Linked DNA regions of Homo sapiens. The protein of the gene in region 2 interacts with the protein of the main gene of each other region in a biochemical or structural test. Each region holds a gene or a part of one and is shown on either strand. Other genes may lie near its edges.

Region 1 (3,824 bases), on a different chromosome or scaffold from region 2:
GTTCTGGGAGTGTGGAGGCACTAGGGCATTCTGTGGAAGTCTTAGTGCTGGTCAGATATGTCACAGGGTGGGCCTGTGTTTCTCGGAAGAGGAATAAAAAGGGATATTCATGAATATTGTTTGGGAAATTTCAGTAGAAGGATTAAGAAAATGAAATAACTGGTATAAATATTGGGGGGAGGAGAAACCCAGCAGTGGCCTGGGGGTCTGAGAGGGCAGGATGGGGGAAATTTTAAATTTTAGCTGTAGGAATAAGATAATGAAAACAATTGATATAAATATTGGGGTAGACCAGTGCTCCTCTGGGAATTTAAGAAGACAGTGTGTGGAAGTTGGCATTAAACATGTTGTTTCAGAGGTTTTAGCTTAAGGAATAAGAGAAGAAAATAATTAGTTAAAAATGTTGGGAGTCCCAGAGGACGAAGTAAGCAAAAGTTGGTATAATACTGTCAGGGAGGTTTTGATTCTAGGAATATGAAATATTCTGGAATAAGAGAAGACTATGAAATAACTAGGGAAGCCCAGCACTGGTCCAGGGGTTTCAGAGGACAGAATGAGGACCAGCCATTATTAACCGTGTTTTCAAGATGTTGGCTATAGGAATACGGCAGGAAAATGAAACGTTGTGCATGGCAGGGCAGCATCACTTTGGGGATCTCAGAGTGGGAGTAGAAAGAGTCAGTATTAATAATGCAGTGGTGGTTTTCGCCAAAGCAGTAAGACAAGAAAGTAGGTGAGATAGTGTTTAGGGGCCCAATACTGGTCTTAGGGTACCAATGGATGGGTTAAAAACTGATAAATTTTAACATTGCTTTCAAAGTCATAGCTATGGCAATTAAAACAAAATAAAATCTCTGATATAAATGTCAGGGGGGGGTTCCAGCCCTGGTCTGAGAGACTGTACCTTGTCATAGTAGTACCGCAAGGCCCGGCTGAGCTTGTCGTAATTCATGTTGGTCTTGTTCTTGCGTAGCCCCCACAGCCGGGCCACCTCCTCTGCATCCACCAGCTTGAATTCACCACCATCCCGTGAAGTCCAGGAGATGATGTGGCCATTGCCTTGCTCTCTCAGCAGCTGCAGCAGAAACTGCCACAGCGTCACAGATGGGTCCATCGCTGGGGGAGTGCTCACGCCATCCCAGGGGTACCTGGAGAGCAAACAGCTGAGTTGAGAGGCTGTGGACATAGGAGGGGCAGAGGTCAGCGGGAGGAGGATTCCTTTTTTTGTCATCTTTTCTCCATCTCTGTCTTCAAACCCTACCATCATTCCCTAAACCTTCCCAGACTAACTTCTAGCTCCCCAGTCTTGCTTGGGATGCTCCCTGTGATGGGATACAACTCATGGGTATCTTAGGATGGTGTGAATGTATTTTGAATGTGAAACAAATGTGAATCTGTGGGGGTCAGAGGGCAGACTGTGGTAGGCCAAATGATGCCAACCCTGCTCCGCATCCTAATCCTCGGAACCTGTATGTTATTTACACTACATAGCAGAAAGGAACTTTGCAGATGAAATTAAGGTTACAAACCCTAAGACAGGGAGATTATTTCTGGATTATTTGATGAAATTCAATCTAATCATATGAGCTCTGAAAAGCAGATGATGGAGAAAGAAAGGTAGCTCAGAGATGTGATGACAGAAGAGGCAGGGGAGATTCAAAATGTGAGAGGGACTCAACCTGCCATTGTTGGCTTTGAAGATGGAGGAAGGAGGCTCAGAATCAAGGACTGTGGGCAGCCTCTTAAAGCTGGGAATGGCTGTCAGCTGACAGACAGTAAGGAAACAGGGACTTCAGTCCTACAATCTCAAGGAATTGGATTCTGCCAACAACTTGAATGAGCAGGAAATGGATTTTCCCCTAGAGCCTCCAGAAGGAACGCAACCCTGCCAATACCTTGATTTCAGCTGAGACCAGTGTGGGACTTCTGACCTACAGAACTGTAAGATAACAAATGTGTTGTTTTAAGCAGCTAAATTTGTGATTATTTGTTACAGCAAGAATAGAAAACTAGTTCCATCCTCCTCATTTGAATATTATCTGTATCTTCTACCATATCAATGTCAAGTTTTTCAGGAGGTTTTTTTTTTGCCAGACCCTTGCAAAGGCTGCTCACTCCACGTGGGGCTTCCTTCTTTCGCCTAGCAGTCTTTCTTATCTTTCAAGTCCCAGCCCAAAGGTCCTTTCCTTTATGAAGCCGTCCTAAAACTGAATGAATGCCTGATCTCTCTGTCCTGTTACTGTCCCTGAATGTTCTCGTTCTTTTTTTTTTTTTCTTTTTTTTTGAGATGGAGTCTCTCTCTGTTGCCCAGGCTGGAGCGCAGTATAGTGGCACAATCTTGACTCACTGCAACCTCTGCCTCCCAGGTTCAAGCGATTCTCATGCCTCAGCCTCCCGCATAGCTGGGATTACAGGTACCCACGACCACGCCCGGCTAATTTTTGTATTTTTAGTAGAGACATGGTTTCACCATGTTGGCCAGACTGGTCTTGAACTCCTGACCTCAAGTGATCCACCCACCTCCCACCTTGGCTTCCCAAAGTGCTAGGATTACAGGTGTGAGATACCGTGCTCGGCCCTGAATATTCTCTTTCTTGATGACAGCAATAATTAACATCTATTGAGAGCTTAATACACATCAGGCACTCTTCTAAGCAGAGAGGCAATATGGCCTGCTGGACAACTGCCCAGGCACTAGGGCCAGATTGCCAGTGTTTGAATCCTGGTTCTGCCACTTATTAGCTGTGTGACCCTGGGCATATTCTTTTTCTTTTTTTAAGAAATGGGGTCTCACTATGTTGCCCAGGCTGTTCTTGAACTCCTGGGCTCAAGCAATCCTCTCTCCCTGGCCTCCTAAAGTGCTAGGATTACAGGCATGAGGCACCACGCTTGGCTGATATTCTTTAACCTCTTTGTACCTCAATTTTCTCATGTGTAAAACAGGGATAATGATATGCCCATTAGTAAAATGGGGATAACAATACCTAGTTCACAGAGATATTGTACAGATTAAATATTATATGCCTGAGGTGTATGATAAGCTCTAAATATTAGTTTCTGATTTGTTCATAGTCCCTTATCTGCCATTCCAACATCCAAAATGCTCTAAGGGCAGAAAGCTTCTTTTAACTCTTTTGGTGGCAAAACCTGATTTGAAATGAAACAAGGCCCTTTCTGGTCTTTATTGAATCTCACTTATTGCGAGTGTTCATACATTTTGCTGCAGAAATATGAACACAGCCGATTACAGAGCTTACTAAGGGGTGTTATGTAACATCGTATATGCATCATGTTACCTTTCTGAAATGTGAAGAAATGGAAATTCTGAAACACATCTGGCCCCAGGGGTTTTGGGTAAGGGCATGTACACCTGTACTGTTATTTTTTTTTTTAATGGGCATTGACTTATTTATCCCTGATCATGCCTCTGAGAAGTAGGTAGTCTTCCTGTCATTAACTTATAAATGAGGCAGCGGAGGCACAAATGTCTACGTACCTTCCACAGGCCACATGTGGCAAAGCCAGCATTTGGAGCCAGGCAGTCAGGTTCCAGTTGACTAAGCATTTCACCATTAGGCTAAACGGCCCCTCACACCGACTATTCCCTCTCAGCATGTCCTTCAAAGAACAGGATCCTCCCTGTCACCCCATTACTGCTTTCTTTCCTGAGAGCAAACTGGAAATAAACATGAGCTTCCTGTTCAATTATACAAGTCACAAAGCCATGAAGTGTCCGATTAGAGAGTCCTGTCACCAGAGACCTCACTGAATTTGTTTTGCAGGCAGGCTTGTTTCAGAAGTCCAAAGAGTTCAGAGTGACTCCT
Region 2 (3,924 bases):
ACACTCCTGTGTTTGATTTCCTTTATTATCAATACGACTTATTTCCAAATGACTGACATGCCAGTGGGAAAATTTTCCATTTCGACTCATTGGAATTGGACATCGTGAAACAGGCAAGTCGGTCTGTCTGTTTCCGGCGTTATGTGGGTTCCAGCAAGAGCACAAGTCCCAGGGCGCCTGAGGTCCATTCAGAAACCAATGTAAAAACGGTGAGCCAGGGTAAGAAAGAAGAGCACCGTTCCTATCTTCTAAATGCATTCCAGTTTCCACTATTCAAGGTGGCGAGAATGATCCATGGATGTGCCACATGAGCAAAATTTCACCTTCTCGTGCCGCCCAACAACTGACGAATGAAACACACCCCAAGAGAAAATAGGAAACCGAGTCCCCTGCAATAACCTCACACTCAAACCTACACGTCAGTAGGTCATATTCAGAAATACACAGTGAATGTCATCTACCATGAACACAAACACACAGACAGTCTCTCCAGAGGTTCGGAAGACTCACGACCCCAAAACTTGATGTTTCCCATGTGTGGGCTCATCCTGAGATGCAGCCATCACTATCCAGTTGTCCCTGTTGTAGAGACAGAAACTTGGACTCCTCATTACTTTATGTAGGATTGACGGTGTTCGTGTTTGTGTGTGTGTGTGTGTTTGCGTGCGCGCTTGTGGGTGTATTTGTGCGTGTGTGTGTGTGCGTTCACCCCTACGTGTGGGTCGGCACTTCCACTGAGATCACTGGCACACAAGCAGAGCCCTCTTGCTGTGTTTGTTCTTCCCTTTGGATCTCCTGGTCCTCCCTTGCAGAGAAGCGAGGGTGCCAGTGTTCACGGACTCCTGATCTGTCCGGGTCGTCGAAGAGAGGTTTAGCAGGGAGCTTTGCTGTTCAGGATGATGGTTTTTCATCCCACACTTGTATTTCGATTGATGAATCACAAGTACGTTGGGAGGCAGGGTACCTTCGACTTTTCTGACGTTGAACTCAGGCTTCGTTTTGTTTTGCTCTTGGGGGAATTTCCAGTGGTCTAAGGTGCTTTCCTGAGTGGCTCTTTCCACCAAGCGCTCGTCCAACTCGGGTGCCTGGAGGCAGGGGTGGTCTCTCTTGAGCTCTCCTTGCGTTGCTCGCCTGTCTGTGTCTTCAGCGCCGAGGGCTCTTGGTTCCCTGCCTCTTGACACACTCTCACTGTGTCTTTCCCATTCACTCTTCTGGATGTAAAAGAGGACATAGGCCTGTTGACTCAGGACAGAAGTGATGCTACAGGCAGTGACCTTGGCATCATCCATTTTATACCACTGGCCTTCTTGAGCTTTGACATAAGAGAAGTAATGTCCGTCGTGACAACTCCACCCAGCGTGGACCAGCACAGCATAGAGGACATAGACAAGAGGTCCTGTGTTCTGCTGAGACATGTATGGCTGCATGTCAAGGCACTCAGGATATTGCACATTCTTGGCAAGTTTGTTGCCTGTGACATCGGAGAATCTCTTCAAGACAAGGATGAGGACCTTGGCAGAAGTGTGTAAAGTTAACGTCTTGGAGGCCGGCGCCCTCTGGAGACAAAGACCGCAATGATAGGCATTCTCTCCATTGAGTTCTTCGGGCTTCACCAACTGTTCCAAAGCTTGCTTGACACTCTGAGCTGCCTGGATATCCAGGGCGATGTCCAGGTAAGGGTCAAAAGTGTCTGAAATCCCGTGGCAGTGGAGACACTTGATTTGAGATCTCCAGCAGCCTCCAAATATTTGGTGGATGAGGGTGGTGTCCTTAGAGTGATGATCTACCTGCTTGTGGCCGGGAAGGCATGCCTTTTTCATGGCATCCACAGTGAACATGAGAAATTCATGGGCATCTTCCTGCTTGCCTCTATGGAAGCCAGCAGCCAATGCCTGTGAGGGCTGGATGACATGACCAGGACTGTGGAGGGCCCATGTGATGTGAGCTTGCATAGTACAGAGCATGCAGCACTTGGGACGCTGACATGTTTGAGAGTGCTCCCGGGACAGCATGTAGTTGGCAAGGGGCGGTGTGTATGTCAGGCACTGCAGGGAAGCGTTCTCGTAGCAGGTATTTCCCATATTCTGGAGCCCAGCCCCCACCGCAGCAGGTCTCCTGCTACTCAGAGGAAGCTTCTTCCTGGGAGCAAGCTGTCTTGCCACAGGAGCCAAATCATCACAGAGGTCGACACGGGCCTCAGATGAGAGTGGTGACTTCTCAGGGAGAGAAGTCCGCTGGATTTCAGCAAAAGCTGCATCTGGCCGAGAAGATGTGAGTTTTGAAAAGTGGTTGAACTGCCACTCACCTCCCAAGTAGAGTGAGTCGTCCTCCATGTCGCCCGCAACAAGGATCACAAGGTTTTTCTGCTGGGACTGCAGGTTGCAGCAAGACGCTATCTCTTCCAAGAGAGTCTTCAAATGACGAGCTCTCTGGCCGCATCAGCCCTTATATAACTCACCCCCACCAACCGCGAACACCCCACCCACCCATCAGGTGTGCGATAAACCAATCAAATATCAGCACTCAATTAAGGAATGAGTCACAGGGTGTGTCCCCTTGCATCGCTGGGAATTCAACAGACACAGCCCACATCATGACTTCTAGAACACCTGAATCAAATTACTCCTCAGGGTGATAGGCACATATAATATGAGTGTAACCGGGTTGGGACAGTGGCCACACAGTTGCCTTATTTTAGGTAAAAGAATGTCAGGGAAGAAATCTTTACCTATGAAACCGTGTGTGTATCTCTCTGTGTGTGTGTGTGTGTGTGTGTGTTTGTGTGTGTGTGTGTGTGCTTGTGCTGGGATGAACTTCCAAGTATGTACTTTTGGCAGCTACCGTCATCCTCTCATCGACGGAAGGACAAGAAGTCTGAAGTGCGCTTTCTGACCTGAGAATAGTCAATGAAGTATAGTATTTAGCACAGCGTATTTTCTTCCTTAATAATAAAGGAGATATCCGTGGCATCAAACAGACCTTCCAGGGATAACCTTTCCACGTTCAGCCTATTGACTCTCTATCCGAGTGAAATTACTGGCCAGTGGAGAACAAGACAAGTCTTTGCATGAAATGCTCTTGTGGAAGCTAGGCTGCCAAATAATAAAGCATCAAATGGTAGAAACATGCACTGAAGTTTGAAGAGTTACTCAGTGCACAAAGTAGGCTGTGAAAGACTTTGGGGAAATCATGCAATCACCGAGAGACTAATTGATGACATTCCCCAAATTTATGTGTGCCAGAAAAGAGAGATGGTCCTGACATTGTATAGTGAGTGGTTTCGGACGTGCGGCGGCAGTTTAAGAAAACTTGAAACAAAAAACTTGAGAAATCCAAAGGTATCCCAACTATAAGCTTTTGTTTATTAAAGAACTGATGAAAATAAAAACAACGTATCTCACAGCATGGGTGATACTATTTCCATACTTACGTGATAATGGATCAACATTTCATAGAGATGAAATAAAAAGTTCTAATTTTGACAAAAGCAAACAAGGAAAATTATACCGTAGAAAAGCCCGGGTGACGGGAGTGAGGCCCTGTCTGAAGAAGAAAACATCGGAGACGTTTAAAAGCAGTGAGTGAAACAGAGGGTAGCATAACCTTTTTAATACTGGCTCTTGTTTCACTGGGAAATGGCAAAAATAAACCGTGTATCTCCTGGATTCTCGCATCGGTTGTTCATGCTCTGAGATGTTCCCTCCATTTCCAGTTATGCATTGTATGGTGGAATTGCAGTTAGCACCTTTGATGCAAAAATTGTAATGCTGACGAAAGTGGACATGTTCCCTGAACTAAGAGGGACAGCATTTGGGTGTGTCTTCAGGCTCTCTGGCTTACCAGGAATGAAGATCCTGGCTCTAGGGATTTTCCCAAAATGTCTTAGACAGTAAGGAACAGGGCAGAATTGAGGCCCGGCGCCAA

Evidence for each region.
Region 1: the proteins of USP17L2 (region 2) and ELK1 form a complex in vitro, tested with the Homo sapiens proteins (one study listed by BioGRID).

What each region holds. Positions count from the first base shown.
Region 1 is NC_000023.11:47,640,328-47,644,151, forward strand, and holds part of ELK1 (ETS domain-containing protein Elk-1), read right to left. Parts: intron 1,149-3,824; 5' UTR 1,115-1,148; coding exon 905-1,114; intron 1-904. UniProt on the Homo sapiens protein: Transcription factor that binds to purine-rich DNA sequences. Forms a ternary complex with SRF and the ETS and SRF motifs of the serum response element (SRE) on the promoter region of immediate early genes such as FOS and IER2.
Region 2 is NC_000008.11:12,136,428-12,140,351, forward strand, and holds USP17L2 (ubiquitin carboxyl-terminal hydrolase 17), read right to left. Parts: upstream 2,423-3,924; 5' UTR 2,334-2,422; coding exon 741-2,333; 3' UTR 8-740; downstream 1-7. UniProt on the Homo sapiens protein: Deubiquitinating enzyme that removes conjugated ubiquitin from specific proteins to regulate different cellular processes.